2 linked regions of the Homo sapiens genome follow. The protein of the gene in region 2 interacts with the protein of the main gene of each other region in a biochemical or structural test. Each region holds a gene or a part of one and is shown on either strand. Other genes may lie near its edges.

Region 1 (8,212 bases), on a different chromosome or scaffold from region 2:
CGCCCCAGCTCCCCTCCCTCGGCACACCCACCCCCATGCCTGCTCACATGCTCCGGACCATGAGACCCACGCCCCAAACACACGTGCCATTTCAACAAAGAGCTAGCTCTGGGGCCACCATCCGGGGTCAAGGGTCTTGGAGACCACCTTGCCACAGCGTCTTTCCATTTCATAGCGTTTTGTTTTTGTTTTTTTTTATGAGACGGAGTTTTTTTGCTCTCATTGCCCAGGCTGGAGTGCAATGGTGCGATTTTGGCTCACCGCAACCTCCACCTCCCAGGTTCAAGCGATTCTCCTGCCTCAGCCTCCTGAATAGCTGGGATTACAGGCATGCGACACCATGCCTGGCTAATTTTGTGTTTTTAGTAGAGATGGGGTTTCTCAATGTTGGTCAGGTTGGTCTTGAACTCCAGACCTCAGGTGATCTGCCCACCTTGGCCTCCCAAAGTGTTGGAATTTATTTATTTATTTATTTATTTATTTTTTTTTTTGAGACGGAGTTTCGCTCTTGTTGCCCAGGCTGGAGTGCAGTGGTGCAATCTCAGCTCACCGCAATCTCTGCCTTCTGGTTTCAAGCAATTCTCCTGCCTCAGCCCCCCAAGTAGCTGGGATTACAGGCATGCACCACCACCTCTGGCTAATTTTTTTTTTATTTTTAGTAGAGATGGGTTTCTCCATGTTGGTCAGGCTGGTCTTGAACTCCGGACCTCAGGTGATCCGCCCACCTCAGCCTCCCAAGGTGCTGGGATTACAGGCGTGAGCCACTGGGCCCGGTCTTTTTTTTTTTTTTTTCTTTTTGAGATGGAGTCCTGCTCTTTCGCCCAGGCTAAAGTGCAGTGGCACGATCTCAGCTCACTGCAACCTCTGCCTCCTGGGTTCAAGCAATTCTTCTGCCTCAGCCTCCTGAGTAGCTGGGATCACAGGCGCCAGCCACCACACACAGGGAATTTTTGTATTTTTAGTAGAGATGGGGTTTCACAATGTTGGCCAGGCTGGTCTCGAATTCCTGACCTCAGGTGATGCACCTGCCTCAGCCTCCCAAAGTGCTGGGATTACAGGAGTGAGCCACTGTGCCCGGCCTGTATGTTATCTTTTTACGTATCACTTTCTGAGTGCATTTGTGTGCATGAAGCTGACATTTACATTTGTGTGAATTTGTGAATATTTGTGTGAGTCTGTGAGCACTTATTCCTGTTCACAAGGTGACAAGGTGCCTATGTATGTGTGTGTGTGTGTGTGTGTTCTGAAAGTAACACACGTTTTTCTTTTCTTTTTTTTTTTTTTTTGAGACAGAGTCTGGCTCTGTCACCCAGGCTGGAGTGCAGTGGCAAGATCTCAGCTCACTTCAACCTCTGCCTCCTGGGTTCAAGCGCTTCTCCTGCCTCAGCCTCCCAAGTAGCTGGGATTACAGGCATGTGCCACCATGCCTGGCTAATTTTTGTATTTTTAGTAGAGACAGGGTTTCACCATGTTGGTCAGGCTGGTCTTGAACTCCTGACTTCAAGTGATCCACCTGCCTCGGCCTCCCAAAGTGCTGGGATTACAGGCTTCAGCCACCGTGCCTGGCCGAAAGTAACACACTTTTCTTTCCAGGCCTGTAAAGAACGAACTCACACAAACACTTGTGCATTCACAATTATATACAGCTAAGAGGCATGCAGGGGATATTTTGACAAAAATACAATGGAGGGCCAAGCACAGTGGCACATGCCTGTAATCCCAGCACTTTGGGAGGCCGAGGTGGGAGGATCCCTTGAGCCTAGGAGTTTGAGATCAGCCTGGGCAATATAAGGAGATCCCATCTCTACACAAAACAAAAAATTAGCCAGGGATGGTGGCTGCAGTGAGCCATGATTGTGCCACTGCACTCAAGCCTGGGGTGACAGAGTGAGATCCTGTCCAAAAAAAAAATAAAACAACAACAACAAAACAAACAATAGAACAAAAGCAAATATTAAAATATTAAAAACATCCGGCTGGGCGCGGTGGCTCATGCCTGTAATCCCAGCACTTTGGGAGGCCGAGGCGGGTGGATCACCTGAGGTCAGGAGATCAAGACCATCCTGACTAACACAATGAAACCCCGTCTCTACTAAAAATACAAAATATTAGCTGGGCATGGTGGCCGGCGCCTGTAGTTCCAGCTACTGGGGAGGCTAAGGCAGGAGAATGGCGCGAACCCGGGAGGCGGAGCTTGCAGTGAGCTAAGATTGCACCACTGCACTCCAGCCTGGGTGACAGAGCGAGACTCGGTCTCAAAAAAAAAAAAAAAAACAAACAGAAAAAAAAAAACCAAAAATCCACAAATCGGTGCTTAGACCTTACAAATAAACACACAATTGCACTCATGTACACAAATATTTGTACTCAACGCGTTCACACACACTTCCATACTTACAGACACAATCAGATTCATACACAGAAATACATTTGCTTACACAGATATGAATTCCTAGATAAATATGCACATTTGAACTCTCACAAAAGCATTCAGACACAGGCATTCTTTTTTTTTTTTTTAATGTGACGGAGTCTCACTCTGTCGCCCATGCTGGAGTACAGTGGTGCAATCCTAGCTTGCTGCAACCTCTGCCTCCTGGGTTCAAGCGATTCTCCTGCCTCAGCCTCCCAAGTAGCTGCAATTATAGGTGTGGGCAACCACGCCCGGCTAACTTTTGTATTTTTAGTAGAGATGGGGTTTCACCATGTTGGCCAGGCTGGTTTTGAACTCCTGACCTCAGGTGATCCACCCGCCTCAGCCTCCCAAAGCACTGGGATTACAGGCATGAGCCACTGCACCCAGCAGAAACAGGCATTCTTGCACAGGTATACCTGCTTTCATGCCTACACAATCTGTCACAGGCACCCACCATATATTCAAATCCACAAAGATACTCACATATAAACACACATATATGCACAAAAATATAGTCAGGAACTGCTCATCATAAATCACACATCTGCTGGGCGCGGTGCCTCAAGCCTGTAATCCCAGCACTTCAGGAGGCCGAGTTGGGCGGATCACGAGGTCAGGAGATCGAGACCATCCTGGCTAACATGGTGAAACCCGGTCTCTACTTAAAAAAAAATACAAAAAACCAGCCGGGCGTGGTGGCGGGTGCCTGTAGTCCCAGCTACTCGGGAGGCTGAGGCAGGAGAATGGCATGAACCCAGGAGGCAGAGCTTGCAGTGAGCCAAGATCGCACCACTGCACTCCAGCCTGAGCGATAGAGCGAGACTCCGTCTCAAAAAATCAATCAATCAATCAATCACACATCCATGTGCATATAGCCAGATTCACATACTCAAATACAAACCCACTTAGACACACAGCCTCACCTCCACACAGAGCCTTCTCCCAGCACACACTGCAGATACCAGAATAATACACAAAGACACTTGCAAATACACCCAGTACAGCTACGCAAGGACACTCATAGACACAAATAGTCACACTCTTGCAGAAATATACACACTTTTTTTTTTTTTTTGAGACAGGGTCTCACTCTGTTGGCCAAGCTGGAGTGCAGTGGCACTATCTCAGCTTCTGCCTCCCTGGTTCAAGCGATTCTCCCGCCTCAGCCTCCCGAGTACTTGGGATTACAGGCATGCACCATTATGCCCGGCTAATTTTTAAAAATTTTATTTTTAGTAGAGACGGGGTTTTGCTATGTTGGCCAGGCTACTCTTGAACTCCTGGCCTCAAGTGATCTGCCCGCCTTGGCCTCCCAAAGTGCTGGGATTACACTCGTGGCCACCGCTCTCGGCCTGAAATACACACACTCTCAATGTCTCTCCATACTCCTGCATTGACAGAGGCATCAATAACAGCCTCATACAACACACCAGTACGTTCAGATGCACAGAGATAGACATACTCACAGCACTCCAAAAACACACACACAGCCGGGCACGGTGGCTGCCGCCTGTAATCCCAGCACTTTGGGAGGCTGAGGCGGGTGATCACCTGAGGTCAGGAGTTTGAGACTAGCCTGGCTAACATGGTGAAACCCCAACTCTACTAAAAATACAAAAATTAGCCGGGAGTGGTGGCGCAACCCCGTAATCCCAGCTACTCGGGAGGCTGAGGCAGGAGAATCGCTTGAGCCTGGGAGGCGGAGGTTGCAGTGAGTCGAGATCGCGCCACTGCACTCCAGCCTGGGAGACAGAGTGAGTGAGACCCTGTCTCAAAAACAAAAACAAAAACAAAAACAAAAAACAGACACACACTCATCACTTCCATCCATCCTCAGGATACAGACATCTATATAATACATATCCTTGTACACACAACAAATTAAACACACACTTACACGTGCCCAGATACATACCCCACACACACACACCCCTAGACACCCCCCAATACACTTGGTCACCACCCAAATGTATTCAGAGATACACAGATACGAAGACACTCATATTCTTGTGCCTTCACTAACATAATCAGAAACAGGTGCACCCAACCACTCTCTGCCTGAGGGCCGGCGTTTATTGCAAGCACTTGCAGGAGCTCCTACGCCTAAGGGTAGACACTGGGGCTGGCACACACAGAGGGTCCCTAATCCTTTCCAGTAAGCTAGGCGCGCGCGCACACACTCACACACGCGCGCGCGCACACATACACACTCAGTCCTCCGCAAGCTCCCTCCACCATCGCCGCAGTCCAGGCCGCCCCCCTCCGCCCCGCCCCTGCTGCTCCGTGCACACTGCAGTGAGGGGCCCGGGCGGGGCGCAGGGGCGCGCCAGGGTCCGGGTCCGGGTTCGGGGGCGGGGCGCACCTGGGCTCCTCCCCGGGGCGGGCCCGACGCAGCGTCGCCAGCGCAAGCGGCCGCACCTGGCTCAGCAGCGGCGGCGGCGGCGGCGGCGGCAGCGGCGGTAGCAGCAGCGGGCCCGGCTGGGGCGCGAGCGCGGCGCAGCCCAGCCCAGCCCAGTCCGAGCGCGGACCCGGCGCCCGCAGCCCCGGCGCCGCCATGGTGGAGGCGGCGCCCCCCGGGCCCGGGCCGCTGCGGAGGACCTTTCTAGTGCCCGAGATCAAGTCGCTGGACCAGTACGATTTCTCGCGGGCCAAGGCGGCGGCCAGCCTGGCGTGGGTGCTGCGGGCCGCGTTCGGGGGCGCAGGTACCGGGGCTCGGGGGACCGGGGTCGGGGGCGGCGGGCCGGGCGCGGCAGGTGCTGGGGGGGGGCGGGGCGCCGGGCCGGGAAGGCAGGGGGCCGTGGGAACAATAGCGCCGGCCGCCGGGGGTCCCCGGGCTCGGGCCCCTGCCGCGCCGGGGCCTCCGAGCTTCCTGCTCGGCCCGGGCGGTGGACTTTGCCCCGCCGGCTGCGGGAGCGCGGTGGGGGTGGGGCCCGCGGCCCAGCTCCGCGCGGGGGTCCCCGGCGTCCAAGCCTCCAGGTGAGCCGGGCGGGGTCTGCGGGCCGGGTGGGGTCTCCCCGTGCGGACCTCTCGTTCCCGCCTCCCGCACCCCCAAGGCCTTCCCTTGCACGCCTTCTTCTCTTTTACACACATCACGCCCCTGCGAGGATCTCCTCTCGGTCTCTTCCCCCGCCACACACCCTGGAGACCCAGACCCCGACCTCGCTGGGGGGTCTCGAGCGCTCCGGTCTCCACCACCGCACGACCCCCAGGCCCCAACACACACCCCGCGTCGGCCCTGGCCGCGCTGCGGGCGGCGACCGGGGAGCTCTGGGAACCCCCTTTCGCCTCCATAGCCCCCTCCAGCGCCTGGCAGCTGCGACTTATGGCCCCATTTTACTGGGGAGGTTGGCGAGCCCAGCTGAAGGGAAATGGGTAGTACAAGATCGCCTGGGGTGGGCCCCCCGCTCCTCCCGGCTGCGGGGCCTTCTCCCATTAGAGCAGATCCTTCACTCCCTCCCCCAGGCCCGCTTGCCTGAGAGCCCGAGCCACCCTAATGGGGAGGATGCCGTAATCCCGGGTCCCCGGGATTAGAGGCCCTGGAAACACTCAGTCTCGGCTTTGGGCAGCTTCACAACCCCAGGCCAGAGCTAGGAGTCAGGGCCTGGCCAGAGAAGACAGGGGTTAATTAAGGTCTGGGCTTTCCAGCGGGGAGCTGTGGGGGTACATCCTTTTCTCCCACTGGTTCTGCCCACTGGTGTTGGCACAGCCCATCCCCCCTCTCCCTGGCCTTCCCAGATCAACCTGTTCTGGGTGTGGGTCTCAGTGACAGCTGTCCGTCTCCTGGTTCCGCCCCAGCCTGTCCCTCTTTCTCCCAGACAGTCTCTGTCTGCGTCGTTCCATGCATGCATTTCCCACTCTGGGGTCTACCTCCCTGCAGATATTTGCTTGAGGAAGAAAGAGATTGGGCATTGGACAGCCAGGACAGCCCCAGCTCCTCACTTCCAAGGTTACCAGGCTGTAGAGAACTCAACGTGGAGTGTCAGAATTGAATGTGAAGTCCAGCTGCACCAGAATGCGAATTATCCCAATTATCTGAGCTTCTGTTTCCCCTTCTATAAAAGAAGGCGTTCATTCACAGACTTATCTGTTTTGCGAATGTTTGTGGGGCAGGGGCACTTGCTATGTGTAGGGCACTGCTCCAGTGATGGAGACCCCCCGTTACCTCTTTGCAAGGTTGCTGGGAGGCGTAAAAGCTGTAGTGACCACAGAATTCTTCGCGTGGCACGGGGCGCGTGATACATGCGAAACGGTTGCTCGCTGCTGGTGTGATTGGCGGTGGTATATTTTGATGAATAATATTAACGTTATCCATTATCCCCTGGCCAGGAATCAGAGTAGAAATTATCCCATTTTGAAGACAGCAAAGCAAACTTCTGATGAGGGGTGTTGGTGAGCTCCCAGTGCCCTGACTCACCCAGTTCTGTTCTTGTTGACCCAGCTCCCTCTGCTGTGTGACACACGGCAGTGGCTGCCTCTACCGTGAGGGTCAAGTTCAATCTGTTCCCTGTTCCACTCCCCTAAAAAGAGGAGAAGGGCTGAAGGAAATGGGAGCAGAGTTCTACAAGATTCATGAGCTCTGGGGACTCTTGACGGTATGATACCTATCAGGTGCTGGGCTGGGCGCTCAGGGTGTAGAGGAGACGGCAGGGGATGGATATGGGGCAGAGGGGGATGGGCAGGAAACCAGATCATAGGGAAGCTGGCCAGCGGGGCCTGGGGAAAGAAATTCTTGAAATCTTCCAGGGAGGGAAGAGATCCCACAGGTGGAAAGATTTGAGTCTGGAAGGATGCATGGAAGTTTGACACGGAGAAGAGATGTGTGGGCAGTGGGCAAAGGCTCGGAGTGTGGACCAGCAGGGAGTTCTCAGAGAATAAGATGCAGGTCCCCGGGGTGGCGGTGGGAGATAAGGGAGGCTGGTCAGACTGAGGAAGGCCCTTCAGGCCCCTGGTTATGGATCCAAGGGTACTGGGGAGCCACGGACAGTGTTGGGAACTGACAAGATCAGGTATGCAGTGGCCCCGTGGGAGTAGTGATGGCTCAGAGGAAGGGATAGTTCTGGCAACTCCAAGGCACAGGTGTGAGAAGGCTGTGCAGAAATAAAAGCAGAACACAAGCTTGGAGATTAGATAAGAAAGGGTTCCAAGCCTGGCCAACACGATGAATCCCCGTCTCTACTAAAAATCCAAAAATTAGCCGGGAATGATGGCACACGTCTGTAGTCCCAGCTACTTGGGAGGCTGAGGCAGGAGAATTGTTGAACCTGTGAGGCGGAGGTTGCAGTGAGCCGAGATTGCACCACTGCACTCCAGCCTGGGTGAAAGAGAGAGACTCTGTCTCAAAAAACAAAGGGTTCCATGTTAAACACATTTGGAAAACACCCCATGCAGTTCTTTATGCCTTCAGAACAGATGTGTGATGTGTGAGGGAAACTCAAGTTCATGTTGGACATTTTTATCCTGGACAAGTTATCTCAGCTCTCCAGGCCTTGGTTTTCTCATCTGTACAAGGGGTATAATAATAAGTGTCGTAAGGATTAAATGACTGGATGCAGGGAAGGTCATGGTATAAATAAATGGTTGGGTGTGGTGGCATGGGCTTGTAGTCCCAGCTACTCAGGAGGCTGAGGCAGGAGGATTGCCTGAGCCCAGGAGTTCCAGGGTACAGTCAGCTATGATCACGCCACTGCACTCCAGCCTGGGCAACAGAGTGAGATCCTGTCTCAATCAGCCTTCCATCCATCCATCCACCCATCCATCTACCCACTCATCCATCCATCCACCCACCCATTCATTCAT
Region 2 (7,607 bases):
TGTGATACTCTTTAACCTTGGCATCTACCTCTTAGTAAAGCTGGAGGCAAAGCAGCTATGTTGTAGCCTGTCTCTGCTTTATACGATTTTTATTCTTTATGCTTTTTTTTAGTTTTAAAATACATGGGCTCATTGTTTCTAAATCATGGAGATTATGGAATGAGGACCATAAGAGCAGGAGTTTAAAATGAGTTGACACATAACCCTGAAGAGTGTGCCTGTAGACTATGTTCTCGTGATCCAGGCTAAAAACTGTCAACCGCCAATAACTGAAGAAAAGGTTGTGCTCTTTATATATCTGCTGGTTGACATGGTGGGCCTCATCACAGTGCATTAGTTCACCCGGGCTCAGAGAGAGGCTCACCATTCTGTCAGCAGTGCAACATCATGTGCTTCCAGTGGTTCTCAAGAGTGACTGCATAGACATGTATCATCTAAAGGGTTGTTAATAAAATGTCTTCTCTTTCAGGGATGATATCGCTGATTTAGTAGAAGCTAAAAAGTTGCTTAAGGAAGCCGTAGTGTTACCAATGTGGATGCCCGAATTCTTTAAGGGCATTAGGAGACCATGGAAAGTAAGTTTATTACTGTGATGGCATTGTCAAAGTAAATGGCAGCATGTTGATACAGAGAGCCAATATTTATCTATATTGGGAAAAGTGGAGGGAGAAAGTGGAGTCAGGAAATGTTTAAATTAAAAGGTATATGTTGTGCTACTGAGAATTTTGTTAGACCAGAAGCTGTTGCATGATTCCTAGAATAAGAAATACATACAATGTGATCTTTGGAAAGTTGAATACACAGCATTAAAATTTAGAATTTGGCCGGGCGTGGTGGCTCACGCCTGTAATCCCAGCACTTTAGGAGGCCGAGGCGGGCGGATCACCTGAGGTCAGGAGTTCGAGACCAGCCTGACCAACATGGAGAAACCCCGTCTCTACTAAAAATACAAAACTAGCCGGGCGTGGTTGTGCGTGCCTGTAATCCCAGCTATCCGGGAGGCTGAGGCAGGAGAATTGCCTGAACCTGGGAGGTGGAGGTTGTGGTGAGCTGAGATCACGCCATTGCACTCCAGCCTGGGCAACAAGAGCGAAACTCTGTCTCAAAAAAAAAAAAAAAAATTAGAATTCACCCCATTTAGAATGAGCTCATATTTGCAAATATGACCTAGTCAGCTAATGCAAAAACACTCCATTTTATATGTCATGTTGCATGATTGTAACCTGTATTTTGGGGATTGTTCTCAATAAATTAATGAGAAATATCTGCATGTGATAAATACTTTTTAAAGTCATGGGCTGATCTAAAAAAAGACCATCAAAAAAGCTTTTCTTGGATTTGGAAAACACACTGATAGGTAACTCTGCATGTATGAATAGTTGTAAAAATCCTTTATACATTAAGTGATAAGCAAGATACAAAATGATAGATATACTTTGAATAAATTATATATATATATGTATTTTGTTTGTTTTGTTTTGAGATGGAGTCTCGCTCTGTCGCCAGGCTGGAGTGCAGTGCGATCTTGCCTCACTGCAATCTCCGCCTAACGGGTTGAATTGATTCCGCTGCCTCAGCCTCCCGAGTAGCTGGGATTACAGGCATGTACCACCACGCCCAGCTAACTTTTTTTGTATTTTAGTAGAAACGGGGCTTCACCATGTTGGCCAGGATGGTCCCAATCTCCTGACCTCGTGATCTGCCTGCCTCGGCCTCTCAAAGTGCTGGGATTACAGGTGTGAGCCACCATGGCTGGCCGAATAAGTTATATTTTTAAACAACCTAATTTGTCTGAGCAAAAGGACAATCAGGATATAAATCCAGATGCTAATGGTACCTCTGTTAGGGTGCTGATATTATAAACTACTTTTTCTCATCTTTGAGTTCCAAATTTTTCATAATGTGGTTATCTTCTTTTTTAACGGGAAGAGTAAATTTGTGACAAAGTATCCTCCTGTTTATCTGTTTGTCTTTTATTTGTCTTGATATTATATATAAGTTGGTCGAAATTTGCTACTTAGTAATGACACTTTTATGAATTAGAACAATGGCAGATAAATCCTCTGCTGAGGCTATTATATTCGCAACAGGGAGTACTGATGGTCGGCCCACCTGGCACGGGGAAGACGCTCCTTGCTAAAGCAGTAGCTACAGAATGCAAGACAACATTCTTCAATGTCTCTTCATCAACTTTGACTTCCAAATACAGAGGAGAATCTGAGAAGCTTGTTCGTCTTCTGTTTGAAATGGTGAATGTTTGAGACAGCTCTAATGATTCTTTACCTCTCTAAAAGGGGAGAAAGTGAGCTGTAACTATCTCCAGTATATGGAATAGTTAGGCAGGATGCCATTTTGCCCAGAGTATGAGTCCTATGCCCTTAAAGCTAGATTTCTTTACAAACATGAATAATTAGAGTTTCTCTTTGTCTCTTTTTCTCCAGATGTAGATCCAAATCTACCAGTTTTGGGGCATGCTCACATTATGGGATCTGCATTACTAATCTTCTGTAGGAATCTGAAATTATGTTTTTTAAATCAATAGGTTTAGTTATAATATGATAACCACAGTATTGTAACAATGATGCCAAAAGGTGAGAATCATAATTTATTGTGGAACTTAGGTCACCTCCGATCTATTAACTGCACCAAATGCCTTCATTTTAATGACCTAATCTTTGGATTAGGTTCTTTCTTCCACCAATACAAATCAGAGTACCAATAGAAGAAATGTAATTCAACAAGTTCTGGTAGAGTGTTTAGATTGAATTCCACAGCCTTTTAAACTTCAGACTTTGTTAAGCTTCACTGATTACGTCACTCTTGCCTCTAAGAAACAGAGTAGTTTTATGTAATTAGGATAGAGTTATGCTATTAGTGACAAAGACGTGAATCTTCTTTTTTTTGAAATGGGTTCTCAGTCTTGCCTAGGCTGGTATGCAGGAGCATGATCACAACTCGCTGCATCCGTGACCTCCCAGGCCCAAGTGCTCTTCCCATCTAAGCCTCCCAAGCAGCTGGGATGATGGACATGAGCCACCACACTCAGCTCATTTTTTTTTTTTTTTTTTTTTTACAGATGGGGTCTTGCTGTGTTGCCCAGGCTGATCTTGAACTCCTGGGTTCAAGTGATCCTCTTGCTTCAGACTCCCAAAGTGCTAGATTTATAGGCATGGGTCACCAATCCTGGTCAAGACATGAATTCTATTTTTTTTGACAGGGTCTCATTCTGTCACCTAGGCTGGAGTGCAGTGTTGCAATCTCGGCTCACAGCAGCCTTCACCTCCTAGCCTCAAGCGATCCTCCCACCTTAGCCTCCTGAGTAGCTGGGACTACACAAGTGCACTACCATGCCTGGCTAATTTTTGTATTTTTAGTAGAGATGAGGTTTTGCCATGTTGACCAGGCTGGTCTTGAACTCCTGACCTCAGGTGATCTGCCCACCTTGGCCTCCCAAAGTGTTAGGATTATAGGTATGAGCCACTGCGCCTGGCCTTTTTTGATTTTTTTGTAGAGATGAAGTCTCACTACGTTGCCCAGGCAGTCTAGAACTCCTGGCCTAACACTCCTCTTGCCTAGACCCCATAAAGTGCCGGGATTACAGGCAAGAGCCATTGTGTTCAGCTTTTTTTTTTTTTTTTTTTTTTTTTTAAGATAAGCTCTCACTATATTGCACAGGTTGTAGTGCAGTGGTTATTCACAGGCACAATCATAGCATACTGCATCCTCCTCTCTCAGCATCCCAAGTAGCTGGGACTTCAGTCGTGTACCACTGCACTCAGCTTTCAAGCCTTATTTTTATTGTCCTTAGGGTAATGAACTCTCAGCAAAGTTAGCCCTCATTTTGTCATAGTTCCAGCAAAAGTCCAAAGATTAATATTTGGCCTGTTTTGAGTTTCATACCTATGCCGAAACTCCTTGTTTTTGGTCAGAGAATTGGAGTGCTCTGATTGGCCAGGTCTGAATAAAACCCCTGGAGTTCCAAGTAAAGTTAGCCTCTTTTGAAGTAGTGGAATAGGAATGAGAGGGGCCCGGCATGGTGGCTCATGCCTGTAATCCCCGCACTTTGGGAGGTTGAGGCGGGCAGATCACTTGAGGTCAGGAGTTCGAGACCAGCCTGGCCAACATGATGAAACCCCGTCTCTACTAAAAATACAAAAATTAGCCAGGTGTGGTGGCGTGCACCTGTAATCCCAGCTACTTGGGAGGCTGAGGCAGGAGAATTGCTTGAACCGGGGTGGCAGAGGTTACAGAGAGAGGGAGAGGGGAGAGGGGAGAGGGGAGGAAAGAAAGAAAGGGATGATTTGCAAATGAAAAAGAGGCTTCTCTTACCAGAAGTGTGCTGTGCAGGGAGAACCAATTGGTGTCCTCTACCGTACCTTCCTGGGCCAGCTAAACCCAGGACACATAGCCTTTCCTTGAAGTCAGATCATTCTACATAACCTCAGTATGTGGGAAGAATCAGTCTAGTCACTTTTGCTTGGTGTGGCAACAGACTGAAGTTTAATTTTTGTTGATGTAGGTGCTTTTGATAGATGCTTCCTAAAATTTTAGTTGAGAATTTTCTTGGATGTTTTAATGATGATGAAGTTCACTCTTTCCCTCTCTCCATTTGTTGAAAAAGTACAAAAATATTTATACATAAAGACCCAAGTATTGACTCTCTTTAAAGATGAAATTATCCCACTAGGTACAGTGGCTCATTGTAATCCTAGCATTTTGGGAGGCCGAGGCAGGAAGATTGCTTGAGTCTAGGAGTTTGAGACCAGCCTAGGCAACATAATAAGACACCATCTCTACCAAAAATATAAAAATAAGCCTGGTGTGGTGGCACACACCTGTAGTCCTAGCTACTCGGGAGGTTGAGGTGAGAGGATTGCTTGAGCCCAGGAGCTCAAGGTTGAAGTGAGCCAAAATCATATCACTGCACTCCAGCCTGGATGACAGAGCAAGACCTTGCCTCTTAAAAAAAAATAAATAAATAAAAAACGGTTCATTAGAAGCCATATTTTAGCTGTTCTAATTCTATCCCATCTCCCCAGTATTAGCGTGAGAGAAAGATGCACAGTGTGGCAGGCTCCTTAGCTGTTTTGTTGTTTTCTTTCTTTCCTCTTGTTTTAGAGACAGGTTCTCACTCTGTCACCCAGTCTGGAATACAGTGGTGTGGTGTGATCATAGCTCACTGCAGCCTTGAACTCCTGGGCTCAAGGGATCCTCTCACCTAGCCTCCTGAGTAGCTGGGACTCAGACACGTGTAACCACACTCAACTAATATTTTAATTTTCTGTAGAGATGGAGTCTTGCTATGTTGCCCAGGCTGGTCTCGAACTCTTGGGCTCAATCCATCCTCCTGCCTCACCCTCCCAGTGTTGGGATTACAGGTGTGAGCCACTGTGCCCAGCCTCCCTCAGCTATTTTCTGATTGCTAATCTGTAGATTATTTTAAAATGAAATAATAGCTTAATAGCTTGATATTGCATGGTTTCTTCCTTTAGGCTCGATTTTATTCTCCAGCCACCATATTTATTGATGAGATAGACTCCATCTGTAGTCGCCGAGGGACTTCTGAAGAACATGAAGCAAGCAGAAGGGTGAAAGCGGAGCTGCTGGTTCAGATGGATGGTATCTGTGTTTAGCTTGAGTTGAACAGGGACGGGAGGTTGTTAGGTGTGGTGTCTCCAGTTCCAGTGGGTCAAACTTTACTCATAGTGCTAACCCAAGCTTTTAATAGGTATTCTTAACTTCAGATGGACTAGAGGGGGTGGCAAGAAGTTCCTGATAGTGATAGTAATAGATTTGGTACACTGACAGTGGTGACAAGTCAGAATTAATGGCCACACACAGGGCACCCTTTTGGTATATACAACTATCTTACTTTAGCTATGAAATTGAAATAAAAATAAATGCAGATAAATTGGCCTTAGAGTTTATGTACGCTTTGAAAAAGATTTAAAATTGTTATGTATTTGAGATCTGGCTTTTCGATTAAATCTATTTTGAGTCATATATTTGCATACTACAGAACTCATTTTCTTTGGATTACAAATTCACATAGGTACCAGTTAACCTAAGTCTTAAGGAGGCATTAAGACTGTGCTTCCTTGTATTGTTGTACTAAATAGTTGTTGATCTTTAAATAGCTGAGCTTCATTTGGTATAATCCAACTTAATATCTTTTTCACTCTCCCCTTACCCTTATTTTAGGTGTTGGAGGTACTTCTGAAAATGATGACCCTTCCAAAATGGTTATGGTTCTGGCAGCTACTAATTTTCCCTGGGATATAGATGAGGCTTTAAGACGACGCCTTGAGAAACGAATCTATATTCCTTTGCCGTCAGGTATCTTCCTTTCAATCTTGTCAGAAAGCCTGTTAACTTTCATGTAGTTTTGTTTAGAGAATTTAAAATTTGTTATTAACTAACTTTCTGGAAGAGATACATGAGGAGTATCTTCCTTTACAGTACTAGTTTGGCTATATGCCTTAATACTAAATAGTAAGGAATTAAAAAGTAAAGAATGGCTCTTTACTTAATTATCTCTTCTTAGAGATCCAATTCTTACTGGAAGACAACATCTCACACAAAGAAGATTTGAGACAATAGTATACTATGTTTATGCTGCAGGCTTACATTTTAAAATTTGTTTCTACCATTAGCAAAAGGCAGGGAGGAGCTATTACGAATAAGTCTACGTGAGTTGGAATTGGCTGATGATGTTGACCTTGCAAGTATAGCAGAAAACATGGAAGGTTATTCAGGTGCGGACATTACCAACGTGTGCAGGTATGAATTATCATGGAAGCATAGGTTTTTGTAAGCATAAACTTCTAGTATGAAGTTTTTTGGTTTTGTTTTTTGAGACACAGTCTCGCTCTGTTGCCTAGACTGGAGAGTAGAGGCGCAGTCACAGCTTACTGCAGCCTGAAACTCCTGGGCTCAAGTGATCCTCTGACGTGAAGTTTTTATGCTGAATTAAGACAGATCAATATCTTGGTGGTGGCTCACGCCTGTAATCTCAGCACTTTGGGAGGCCAAGTGGGAGATCACTTGAGCCCAGGAGTTTGACTGGCCTGGGTAACATTGCAAGACCTCATATCCATGAAAAAAATTTTAAAAATTAGCCGGGCATGGTGGTTCCCACCTGCTCAGGAAGCTGAGGCAGGAGGATCGCTTGAGCCCAGGAGTTTGAGGCTGCAGTGAGCCATGATTGTGCCACTGCACCCCAGCCTGGGCGACAAAGCAAGACCCTGTGTCCAAAGAAAAAAAAAAAAGATGAATAAAGACCCACATTCCAGTTTTGTTTTGTTTTTTGAGACGGAGTCTCGCTCTGTCACCCAGGCTGAAGTGCAGTGGTCCGATCTCGGCTCACTGCAACCTTTGCCTCCTGGGTTCAAGTGATTCTTGTGCCTCAGCCTCCCGAGTAGCTGGGATTACAGGCATGCACCACCACACCTGGCTAATTTTTGTATTTTTAGTAGAGACGGTGTTTCACCATGTTGACCAGGCTGGTGTCGAACTCCTGACCTCAAGTGATCCGCCTGCCTCAGCCTCCCAAAATGCTAAGATTACAGGCGTGAGCCACCATGCCCGGCCCCACATACATTTTGTAG

Evidence for each region. The genes of interacting proteins can lie anywhere in the genome.
Region 1: the proteins of KATNA1 (region 2) and CAMSAP3 form a complex in vitro, tested with the Homo sapiens proteins (one study listed by BioGRID).

What each region holds. Positions count from the first base shown.
Region 1 is NC_000019.10:7,591,033-7,599,244, forward strand, and holds the start of CAMSAP3 (calmodulin-regulated spectrin-associated protein 3), read left to right. Parts: upstream 1-4,830; 5' UTR 4,831-4,970; coding exon 4,971-5,118; intron 5,119-8,212. UniProt on the Homo sapiens protein: Key microtubule-organizing protein that specifically binds the minus-end of non-centrosomal microtubules and regulates their dynamics and organization.
Region 2 is NC_000006.12:149,596,236-149,603,842, reverse strand, and holds part of KATNA1 (katanin p60 ATPase-containing subunit A1), read left to right. Parts: intron 1-469; coding exon 470-575; intron 576-2,090; coding exon 2,091-2,249; intron 2,250-5,492; coding exon 5,493-5,619; intron 5,620-6,201; coding exon 6,202-6,336; intron 6,337-6,653; coding exon 6,654-6,780; intron 6,781-7,607. UniProt on the Homo sapiens protein: Catalytic subunit of a complex which severs microtubules in an ATP-dependent manner. Microtubule severing may promote rapid reorganization of cellular microtubule arrays and the release of microtubules from the centrosome following nucleation.